3 linked regions of the Homo sapiens genome follow. The protein of the gene in region 1 purifies or fractionates together with the protein of each later gene. This does not show direct contact. Each region holds a gene or a part of one and is shown in the gene's direction. Other genes may lie near its edges.

Region 1 (5,238 bases):
ATTCTGAAGTGGGTTAATATTTAAAATCACAAAAATCTGATATTAAAATACTTAAAAATATTAAGTTGTCTGTTGACCTGGAGTGATACCAAAATACCTACTGTCAATAATTAAGCAGGTTATACATTGAAACAGTTGTTTAAAAAACATATAGACTGGTTTTTATATGCACAGAATCACTTGAGCAAGTGAACATTGACATGTTAGCAGTATTTCTCTCGCGAGGTGGAGTTTGGAGAGGCTTTCAATCTCTTAAGTTATTTAAGTTTTTCATAACAAAAATTATTAGAAAAAATATCAAAGACATGCCCATTTTGAAAAAAATAATTTTGAATAATGAATATATTTAAAAATGTGTTATTATAATTAAAATATACCAGTAGAAACCATAGTCCTGAGGAAACCTTTTAATGCCATTATTAGAAAAACAAAGTTGCAGACATTAGTGAATTATAGGTATTTTAGAGAAACCCCTAAAATTCATTATTTCAAGCAATGTATCTTTAAAGCATAGTTGCTTTTATTCCTTTATGGTTTAACATTCTTACTAAATAGTTCTTTAAGTTGGAACAAAAGATGATTTGACTTTGTGCCTCCATTTTAAAGTCAGATTTGGCATTAGGTGATATATTTCTGGTATCTGAAAAAAAGCCGAAAGAAAACATTGCCATTGCTAAACCTTAGTGCTGAACATTATAGAAAGTTAAATAATGAGAAAAAGTGTGAAGTGTCTGCCGGGCATGGTGGCTCACACCTGTAATCCTAGCACTTTGGGAGGCCAAGGCAGGTGGATCACTTGAGGCCAGGAGTTCGAGACCAGCCTGACCAGCATGACGAAACTGTGTCTCTAAAAAAAATACAAAAACAAAACAACAACAAAAAAACTAGCCGAGCGTGGTGGTGCTCACCGGTAGTCCCAGCTGCTTGGGAGGCTGAGGCTGGAGAATTGCTTGAGCGTGGGAGATGGAGGTTGCATTGAGCCAAGATCACGCCACTGCATTCCAGCCTGGGCAACAGAGCAAGACCCTGTCTCAAAAAAAAAAAAGAAAACGTCAAGTGTCTGTGTCTGTGCCACATACATTCTGGTTTCTTTTCTCCATAAATATTAATTACATTGGTCTCTGTTTTGTGGAAATGGAAAATCTAAAGGAAGTAAGTTGGAAGGCTAGCTGACCAGTGTGGTGCCATGCTGGTATTCCCCCTGAGGTGTGTGCCTTACTCACTGCATCTTTCAGTGCCTCTCTGTTTGGTTATTACCTAAATTTTGTTTTACATGGTATGAGGGAGGTGACATCATGAGTTGACCTTCTGGGAGTGTAGGTTTACTGTAAGAGCAGAATGTAGTGTAGTGACAGTTTCATTAGGAAAGCACTAGGGCAGGAGGAACTACTATGCCAGCAGCTGACACACCGATGTAAAAGTGAGATGGTAATCCAGTAATGCCTGAGCACACTTCACTAGATTACCTGACTCTTGGTTATGCTTAAATAAAAAACCTACTTTAGTTCATTCTGTAATGCCATGTATAAGTGAACACTAGAAAAAGCACGTGAAGATTTGTCTCAGGAAGATGGGTGAATGTAGAATGTTTTTAGAAAATGATACATACGTTTATTAATACACTTTAAAATTCTATGTTAATAACTGAGACTTCAAATAATAGCAGTAGTTTCCCTTTTATTACCTCTGAAAGCATTTTAAGATTCTCGTAATCTAAGTAATCTGGAATTCCTGCAACATAGTTGTTGTGGTGTTCGTTTTCTAATTCTACGGATGTTTGAAGAAACTCAAATGTAGCCTAAAAGAAGTCTTAAATATTGGAGAAAAAAACAGGTAAGAGGAAAAGTCAATAGAGATAACAGTATATCTGCAAATAATATTGGGTATATTCAATAATGTCATTATTGAACAAGACTAGATTTAAAAAATGTAATCTACACGATTAAGGTCTTATTGTTCTTGTCTTTGAATTTTGTTATGCACATGCGTTTATTTTCAGGCTTGACCATTTGTGGACATAATTGCCTCCTGACGGCAGAATGGATGTCTGCAAGTAAAATAGTATGTCGAGTGGGACAAGCCAAAAATGACAAAGGAGACATTATTGTCACCACTAAGTCAGGTGGCAGAGGAACCTCAACAGTCTCTTTCAAGCTACTCAAACCTGAGAAAATAGGTAAAGTCTTTCATGGGTTTATTCTAAAGAAGAAAGTAAAAATGAGTTTGTCTTTTAAGCTGTAAAGCTGGTAGATTCGTGTAAAACCTACCTACTTGCATATCTCAACTTAGATTTAGTTTATGTTTATTTTGACAGGATTGGGATGTTGGTTAATATTTGTGTTACTTTCGGGAAGGCAGTGTGCTGAGGTAACAGTCAGTGAAGCCTAAGGATGACGGTCGTATGAGAACTACTCTTCTCAGTTCTTAAAATCTGTTCGTTCACTTGATATACCAGTTTTGGTTCCTTGATCTTGAATATAATGACATTGCTTTAAACTCTTAAACAAGGTTTGAGGTGAAAAATCCTGATTTGGCCAAATTAGTAATAATATATCTAAATAATATTCCCTTTTCCTTCATTTTATCCATCCTTCAAGGCCCAGATGATACATTTCCTAGCTTGGCTGCTTTTAACGCCCCTGTTAGTAATACTCACTCTTCTTTGAACCACATAGCACTTTGTTTTCCTTCTTTATGCGCTGACCACTTGCTGCCTTCCGTTAGCAGTGTTAGGAACTTGCTGCCTTACGTTAGCAGCGTTAGGAACTTGGTCTGAGAAGTCATGCTCTTTGAATTCTAACCTGGACTCTCTTACCATGACTGAGTATGTAACTTTAATACCTTCTTTATCCATGAGCAAAAGTGGAATATATTGGCTACCTCATAGGATTGGGTGAGTTAGAACATAAATGTAAAGTGCTTAGCATAGTCCCTTACCCAGCAAATTAATAATTTCTGATGATCTTTCTTGTAGCTATTTCTGTGCATGTCTCTTTCCCTTTTTAGAATAAGAGTAATGTCAGATTCATCTTTGTGGTCCTGTAATGTCTTGCACCTGGTCAGCATTTGATAAATATTTGTATAATGTAGGAATATCAGAGGCGTAATTAAACCCAGCCAGTACTTCTCTTTATAAAGAAAATAAATAATTTTGCAAATTGTTTTTTTAATCTTAGAGCATAGAGGCTTTCTGCAGCATTGTTCTCCACAAATTCCTAGATTATTTTTATAAATAAAAATTCAAGGAATTTCAGGGAAAATTCAGAGTGGACTTTATATATGTACATGTACGTGCATGTGTACATATATACATATATAACATTTCTATTTTTGTTTACTCTTTTTATTTAGTGTCTTCAAAAACTAAACTGAAACTAAAGCAGGAACTTGTTGTACAGTTTTCTAGAGGGACTTAAACATTTTGATAAAAATCTAATATCTTATGATCTATTTATATAGCAGATAAAGAAAACTTAGGCAAAAGTGGTAATTTTATTATTCTGGAATACTCATTCCAGGACCTAGCACATAGTAGGCTTAGTAAAGGTTTCTTTTTTTTTTTCTTTTTGTTTTGAGACAGAGTCTTGCTCTGTCGCCCATGCTGGAGTGCAATGGCGCGATCTCAATCTTGGCTTACTGCAACCTCCGCCTCCCAGGTTCAAGCAATTCTCCTGCCTCAGCCTCTGCAGTAGCCGGGATTACAGGTGCGTGCCACCATGCCCAGCTAATTTTTGTATTTTTAGTAGAGATGGGGTTTCACCATGTTGGTCAGGCTGGTCTCGAACTCCGGACCTTGTGATTCGCCCACCTCGGCCTCCCAAAGTGCTGGGATTACAGGTGTGAGCTACTGCACCCGGCCAGTAAAGCTTTCTTGAACTGAACTCAAGAGTGCCTGGACTTGAGCAGAAGCCCCTGTTGCATGCTGGCAGAACCACGAGTGCTGAGAGAATGAGTGGGTTCATAGAGGGCCTTGCAGCTACAGGTTGCCTGGTATTCAGACAGCCTTCTCCCATGAAGCCTTCTGATCCTCGCCTGGGGAGGCAGGCACGCTTTGTCTGTGCTCCCTGGCACTTGGCTCTTTTTCTGTTGCAGCCCAGGGCCTTGGAGGCCTAGCTGGTAAGCCCTGTGCTAGGTTGAATGATAACGGAGTTCAGTCCCATAAAGGAAGATGCTGTTTTTAGAGCTTATGTTGTCTTGTTCACAGGGTCCACACCCAGTCAGTTTTCCCTGAATAACCTGGTTATTTCCATTATACAAGCCATGCGTTCCTTGAAAGGTGTTTGATTTAATCGTTAGATATTTTATTGAATTTACCAAATTGATTTCAGCCTAATACGGAAAAAAATCCCTGCTGTTTCTACCATCTAGGACATTTCCAGCACTGATAACAGCAAAAAGAATGAGAAATAGCAAGTAGCATATTATTTTTGCATAACTATTCATGAAAACATGCCAGAGTTTGTAGAGGAAAAGAAAATAAAAGATATTTCTTGAGAGCTTTCAAGAACCATTTAAAAAACATTTGGTTTTCATTTGTAGTGAAATGTCCTTAGGTAGCTTATGGAACCCAGAAGCAGAAACTCACAGTATTAAATATAAAATCATATATGCATAATGGTTTTTCGGCATTTATCATAAACCAGAAGCTTTCCACTGAGCTAACATTTTACTCGAATGTTTTGTGCTTGGATATTTCCCAGACATTTTCCAAGAGTTTACATGATTTCAGAATATTCTCTTGAATAAACAGATATTATAGGTCATATTATTTCATCTTACTGACTTTCTGAATTTTTTGTGCAGATTTAATCAGCTACATTTAACAATGTTTAATTGTAGTGTTTATTATTTGTAAAATATGTTTGTTATTGCAAAACTTTGTCTAAGCAGCTTAATTTGTCTTCTCTGTTGAGTAATGTACAATGAAACCATAAGCTGAGAGGTGTAATTTTTGCCTTTTTATAAATTTTTTTAGTGCTTATAATTAAACTACTAGTCATTTTTTAAAAATTTAGCTGTTATGTCCTCAAATCTCTTAAAGATTATCCAACAGGCATTTTGTATTAGGTCTTTAAGAAGTCAGACAATAGGCCAGACGTAGAAGGTGCCTGGGGTAGGCTTCATCTTATTAAGCATATGCTCCTCATTTCTGTAGGCATTTTGGATCAGTCTGCTGTGTGGGTTGATGAAATGAATTATTATGATATGCGCACTGACAGGAACAAAGGAATTCCGCCC
Region 2 (3,500 bases), on another chromosome or scaffold:
GGGGCGAGATGAGCGGCCGGCTGGGGCCCCTGAAGCTCACCCTGGAGCAGGGCCAGCAGTTGGTGGCCGAGGGTCACCCTGGGGCAAGCCAGGCCTCTGCCCGTGCAGCTGAACTCCAAGCCCAGTGGGAGCGGCTAGAGGCCCTGGCCGAGGAGCGTGCCCAGCGGCTGGCCCAAGCCGCCAGCCTCTACCAGTTCCAGGCCGATGCAAACGACATGGAGGCCTGGTTGGTTGACGCACTGCGCCTGGTGTCCAGCCCCGAGCTGGGGCACGACGAGTTCTCCACGCAGGCTCTAGCCAGGCAGCATCGGGCCCTGGAGGAGGAGATTCGAAGCCACCGGCCAACCCTGGACGCCTTGAGGGAACAGGCAGCAGCCCTGCCCCCCACACTGAGCCGCACGCCCGAGGTGCAGAGCCGGGTGCCCACCCTGGAGCGGCACTACGAGGAGCTGCAGGCCCGGGCAGGCGAGCGAGCGCGGGCCTTGGAGGCAGCCCTGGCGCTCTACACCATGCTCAGCGAGGCCGGGGCCTGTGGACTCTGGGTGGAGGAGAAGGAGCAGTGGCTCAACGGGCTGGCCCTGCCTGAACGCCTGGAGGACCTGGAGGTCGTGCAGCAGAGGTAGGCCCCTCAGGCTCCTAGTGGGACCAGCCTTGGGAGGTGGGGGTGGGGGGGCCAGGATGTGGGTGGTGAGTCCCTCCATAAACTTCCTGCCTCACCCCTTTGAGTCTTAATGGTTGTCCATTTCTAGTTTTAACAAAAAATGTTAACCATACTCACAAGTAGAGACATTTCACCACAAACCCCTCTACACCCGTCACCCAGATTCAGTCATTGCCAACATCTTGCTCTATTTGGTTCTCTGCCCTTTTAAAAAGCAAATCCCCAAGATTAGCACATCCCTCCTACCTTCTTCAGGGTGTGCCCTTTAAGAAATACAAGGAAGCGGCCGGGCACGGTGGCTCACACCTGTAATCCCAGCACTTTGGGAGGCCGAGGCAGGCGGATCACGAGGTCAGGAGGTCGAGACCATCCTGGCTAACATGGTGAAACGCTGTCTCAACTAAAAATACAAAAAATTAGCCGGGCACAGTGGGGGGCGCCTGTAGTCCCAGCTACTCGGGAGGCTGAGGCAGGAGACTGGCATGAACCTGGGAGGCGGAGCTTGCAGTGAGCCGAGATCGTGCCACTGCTCTCCAGCCTTGGCGACAGAGCGAGACTGTCTCAAAAAAAAAAAAAAAAAAAAGAAAAGAAATACGAGGAAGCATTCTTACCTACAATATATTATTTTCAAATTGTCTGTGTGGACTTAAAATAGCTGAGGCTTTGAAGTTATAAACCTTTTAGACAGAGACACTAAAATAGTTTTATTTACAGAATAAATCTTCAAATCATTTATTCAATAATAAATCTTAAAAATTTTTTTATAGAACCACAATACCATTATCACATAGAACAAAATTAGGAATTTCTTTTTTTTTTGAGATGGAGTCTCACTCTGTCACCCAGGCTGGAGCGCAGTGGTGCGATCTCGGCTCACTGCATGCTCTGCCTCCCGGGTTCCAGCGATTCTCCTGCCTCAGCCTCCCAAGTAGCTGGGACTACAGGCACCCACCACCATGCCCAGCTAATTTTTTGTATTTTTTTATTAGTAGAGACAGGGTTTCACCATGTTAGCGAGGATGGTCTCGATCTCCTGACCTCGTGATCCACCCGGCTTGGCCTCCCAAAGTACTGGGATTACAGGCATGAGCCACTGCGCCGGGTCAGGAATTTCTTGATATGATCTATGATCAATGTGTAATCAAATTTCCTGGTGTTTAAAAAAATATAATTAGGTCAGGCCTGGTGGCTCACACCTGTAATCCCAGCACTTTGGGAGGCCAAGGCAGGAGTATCACTTGATTCCAAGAGTTCATAACCAGCCTGGGCAACATAGTGAGACTCCACCTCTACAAAATTTTTTTTTTAATTAGCCAGGCATGGTGGCAGGCGCCTGTAGTCCCAGCTACTGGGGAGGCTGAGGCAGGAGGATTGCTTGAGCCCAGAGGTCGAGGCTGCAGTGAGCTGAGATCGTGCCACTGCACTCCAACCTGGGTGACAGAGTAAGACCCTGTCTCAAAAAAATAAATAAAAATAAAAATGTAATTAAAGATTTTTTTTAGTTTTCAAGGTATCCTAATGTAGAGGTTAACAAACTGCAACCCTTGGGCCAAATCCAGCCTGCTGCCTGTTTCTGTAAATAAAGTTTTTTTTGGTTTTTTTTTTTTTTTTTTTTTTTGAGACGGAGTCTTGCTCTGTCCCCCAGGCTGGAGTGCAGTGGCACAATCTTGGCTCACTGCAAGCTCCGCCGCCCGGGTTCACGCCATTCTCCTGCCTCAGCCTCCCAAGTAGCTGGGACTACAGGCACCCGCCACCACACCTGGCTAATTTTTTGTATTTTTAGTAGAGACGAGGTTTCACCGTGTTAGCCAGGATGGTCTCGATCTCCTGACCTTGTGATCCACCCATCTCAGCCTCCCAAAGTGCTGGGATTACAGGCGTGAGCCACCATGCCCGGTCTGTAAATAAAGTTTTACTGGAACAGAGCTACACTCGCCCTTTTGCGTATTGCCCGTGGCTGCTTTCAGGCTACAGCAGCAGGGCTGAATAGTTGCCGCAGCAGCTGCATGGCTCACGAAGCCTATAATATTTACCATCAAGCCCTTCACAGAAAACATTTGCAGACCCTGCCCTATTAGAACATCAAATGTCGGCCAGGCGAGGTGGCTCACGCCTGTAATCCCAGCACTTTGGGAGGCCAAGGCGGGTGGAGCATGAGGTCAGGAGTTCAAGACCAGCCTGGCCAAGATAGTGAAACACCCGTCTCCACCAAAAATACAAAAATTAGCTAGGCTTGGTGGCGGGCACCTGTAATCCCAGCTATTCGGGAAGCGGAGGCAGAAAATTGCTTGAACCCGGGAGGCGGAGGTTGCAGTGAGTCGAGATTGCACCACTACACTCCAGCCTGGGTGACAGAGCGAGACTCCATCTCAAAAACAAAACATAAAATGTCCCTGGAAGAAGTTATCCTTCACATTTTCATCACTCAGACAAATATTTTTGGTTATTACTTCATTTTCTAACACATATTAGTGGGATGAGACCCAGATAGGCAGCTAAGGGGGAAGTCCCAGGAGGCTGAGCAGCTCTGATAAAGGGTTGGCCCCATGCCAGGGTCTAGTTTGACTTGTGTGTCTGTTCCTGACCTTTACCTTTCACCATCTTTTGAGCATTTCTAGCGATGACAGTTATTCTGCTTGTTTTGGGGGAGTTGTGGGTTCCTTCCTTGATGCACAGATACTATGAACCTCATAGGCTGAGAGGCAGAGAGACTCCTGCAGATAAGCCTCCTGGTGAAGGAGACACCCTCCTGGGTGTTTAAGAGAGGTGGACTTAGGTGGACTGGGCACATCGCTGCCTCCCACAATTCACGCCTGGCTCTTCCACCCTCTCAGGTTCG
Region 3 (3,500 bases), on another chromosome or scaffold:
GATAGTGAATAAATTTCACAGCATTCTGTGCCTGTCATTCAGGCCAGTAGGATAGCTCCTTTGCAGAATCTTTTCCCGTCTTTTATTCTTTTTATGATTGCCTCTTAACCAAAAAACTTTAATCAAAACTTAATTTTAGTAGTGGGGTTATCCTCACAAAGTCACTCCCGTCATTGTTATAGGCATACTGTGTTGGCGGCTGATTAATTCAGAATGCGTTGTTTAATGAGGCTTCATGGTACTGATGGCCTCCTTAGCTCCAGATACACAACTGGTAAATACACATTCCTTGTGCCTATTAATTGAGGCTTTGTGACTGGGTTACTGCAAACATAACCTTTCTATGGCCAATGAAATACCCAGTTCAGAAACAGTCTTCTTGATGAGATAGCATCATTTTTATTTATTTATTTATATATTTTAAAGATAGGGTCTCACTGTGTCACTCAGGCTGGAGTACAATAGTGCAATCGTAGCTCACTGCAGCCTCAAACTCCTGGGCTCAGGTGATCTTCCCACCTCAGCCTCCTCAGTAGCTAGGACTACAGGTGTGTGCCACCACTCCCAGCTAATTTTTAATTTTTTCAGATTTTTTGTAGTGACAGAGTCTCACCATGTTGCCTAGGCCAGTCTCAAACTCCTGGCCTCAAGGGATCTTGCTGCCTTGGCCTCCCAGAGCACTGGGATTACAAGCATGAGCCACTGTGCCCAGCCGGTAGTGTCATTTTAAAAATGAAGGATGAAACTTTTCAGTGTATTTTCCTTAAGTAGTTGATATAATGAAACGTGAATAAGCTTTAAAGTCAGACCTGCATTTGAATCCTAGTTCACGGATTAATTTGGCTTAACTTGATCAAGTTACTTTACGTAACCTGCCTGAGTAGGAAGAATAATGCTTTCCTGCCTGAGAAGTTCTGAGGATTCAATAAAACAATGTGCATAAAGCTCCTGAGAGCCTGATACGTAGGAAGTAGGAAAAATGTCGAATCCACCCCTTGCTAGTTTTTTTGAAATAAGGCGAGGGTCTCCCCCACAAGTGACTGTTTGCAAGGGTATCACTTGTTCTTCCTCTTTCAGTGGCTCCTTCATCCGAGTTGAACACATTGGGACCTAGAGTGTTGGCTTAGCTTCCCACTTCCCCGGTAGTGTGCTTAGGTGATGGGCTTCCCTATTGTTTTCCGTCTAGCTATCACTCCAGCCAGATGCTCTGGGGCTTAGGGATGATACTTCACTTTCCCTCCGTTTCCTAAATGCCAGTTATTTTGAGGTTGCCTGGTAAAACTACTACACTACACTGGGCACGGTGGCTCACGCCTGTAATCCCAACACTTTGGGAGGCCAAGGTGGGTGGATCACGAGGTCAGGAGATCGAGACCATCCTGGCTAACACAGTGAAACCCCGTCTCTACTAAAAATACAAAAAATTAGCCAGGCGTGGTGGCAGGCGCCTGTAGTCCCAGCTACTGGGGAGGTTGAGGCAGGAGAATGGCGTGAACCCGGGAGGCGGAGCTTGCAGTGAGCCGAGATCACGCCACTGCACTCCAGCCTGGGAGACAGAGTGAGACTCGTCTCAAAAATACCCAAACTACTAGACTGGTAAACTGCTAAAGGAATGGTCTTTCTGGCATTGCTCTGTCTCCCTAGACCGCCTTGGCCATGCAGTGTACTGTCTCCCTAGACTGCCTTGGCCATGCAGTCTACTGCTGAGCTTGCAGCTCAGGTACATGTACTGCTCAGTGCTCCTGGCACCGTGATCCAGGTACAGTCAGAATTCAAGGAGTAAGATCCGTTTTAGCATCTCCAAACTAAGCTTATTCCACTGACCAAAACCTGCCCCTCCTCTGATCTCTGTTAATAGCATTTTCCACTCACTCAACATGCCAGAGCGTCAGAGTGACATTTGACATTTCGCTCTTCTCTATTTCCCATATGTAAGCAGTCACCAGGGTCTAAAATTCTGTTCCTAATTTTTCTTTTGAAGCCTTCTTTTTCTCTCCATTTCCAAATATAATGGCTTATAGTACTAAAAAATCTAGGGTGACTGGGAAGTGAGGAGCCACTCTGCCCGGCCAGCCGCCCTGTCCCGGAGGGAGGTGGGGGGGTCAGCCCCCCGCCCGGCCAGCCGCCCCATCCGGGAGGGAGGTGGGGGGGTCAGCCCCCCGCCCGGCCAGTCGCCCCATCCGGGAAGTGAGGGGCGCCTCTGCCCGGCTGCCCCTACTGGGAAGTGAGGAGCCCCTCTGCCCGGCCAGCCGCCCCGTCCGGGAGGGAGGTGGGGGGGTCAGGCCCCGCCCGGCCAGCCGCCCCATCCGGGAGGTGAGGGGCGCCTCTGCCCGGTCGCGCCTACTGGGAAGTGAGGAGCCCCTCTGCCCAGCCACCACCCCGTCTGGGAGGTGTACCCAACAGCTCATTGAGAACGGGCCATGATGACAATGGCGGTTTTGTAGAATAGAAACGGGGGAAAGGTGGGGAAAAGATTGAGAAATCGGATGGTTGCCGTGTCTGTGTGGAAAGAGGTAGACATGGGAGACTTTTCATTTTGTTCTGTACTAAGAAAAATTCTTCTGCCTTGGGATCCTGTTGATCGGTGACGTTACCCCCAACCCTGTGCTCTCTGAAACATGTGCTGTATCCACTCAGGGTTGAATGGATTGAGGGTGGTGCAAGATGTGCTTTGTTAAACAGATGCTTGAAGGCAGCATGCTCCTTAAGAGTCATCACCACTCCCTAATCTCAAGTACCCAGGGACACAAACACTGCGGAAGGCCGCAGGGTCCTCTGCCTAGGAAAACCGGAGACCTTTGTTCACTTGTTTATCTGCTGACCTTCCCTCCACTATTGTCCTGTGACCCTGCCAAATCCCCCTCTGCGAGAAACACCCAAGAATGATCAATAAAAACAAAAACAAAAACAAAAAACCTCTAGTTAACACATAATAATGCCCGCACTGAGCAGATGTTCACTAAGGTGTTGAATAAATAGTTGAAACTGTAAAAAAAAAAAAAAAAAAAAAAAAAAAAAAGATGCTTTTAAAATATGAAAAAAAAAGATATTTTAATGAGAAAAGCTGAGTGTTGGGAGAGAAGCTGATGCAGGGCTTGCATGTCTGCTAGACTTGCTGGCTCCTTGCTTCTAGCACTCCCATTATCTCAAGCAGCCATATGTTTCTCATTCACTTGATACACTGTTTCCTTTCAACCCCCACATCCTCACCACCTGTTTCTTTGTTTGATCATCAATAAATGGTGTGGGCTCCCAGAGCTCCGGGCCTTGGCACAGCATCCACACTCGTGATGGCCCCCTGGTCCCACTTTCTCTCTCAAAAAAAAAAAAAAAAAATCTAGGGTGTACTGTTGCTTCAGAAATGCCCAAATATGGGTGTTCAAATTAAGAATTTGTCTCTGTCTCTGGGCTCTGCTTCCAGATGTGTTGTTTTCATTCTCAGGTAGACTATTCTACAGGTTACCATAGCAACTCCAAGCTTAGCAATACCAGCAACAAGA

The links. The genes of interacting proteins can lie anywhere in the genome.
Region 2: the proteins of EXOC2 (region 1) and SPTBN2 fractionate together in Homo sapiens (co-fractionation; one large-scale study listed by BioGRID). This does not show direct contact.
Region 3: the proteins of EXOC2 (region 1) and RUBCN purify together in Homo sapiens (affinity purification with western blotting, with the first as the bait; one study listed by BioGRID). This does not show direct contact.

Annotation. Positions count from the first base shown.
Region 1 is NC_000006.12:629,879-635,116, reverse strand, and holds part of EXOC2 (exocyst complex component 2), read left to right. Parts: intron 1-1,999; coding exon 2,000-2,176; intron 2,177-5,155; coding exon 5,156-5,238. UniProt on the Homo sapiens protein: Component of the exocyst complex involved in the docking of exocytic vesicles with fusion sites on the plasma membrane.
Region 2 is NC_000011.10:66,701,717-66,705,216, reverse strand, and holds part of SPTBN2 (spectrin beta chain, non-erythrocytic 2), read left to right. Parts: coding exon 1-619; intron 620-3,495; coding exon 3,496-3,500. UniProt on the Homo sapiens protein: Probably plays an important role in neuronal membrane skeleton.
Region 3 is NC_000003.12:197,730,405-197,733,904, reverse strand, and holds part of RUBCN (run domain Beclin-1-interacting and cysteine-rich domain-containing protein), read left to right. Parts: intron 1-3,500.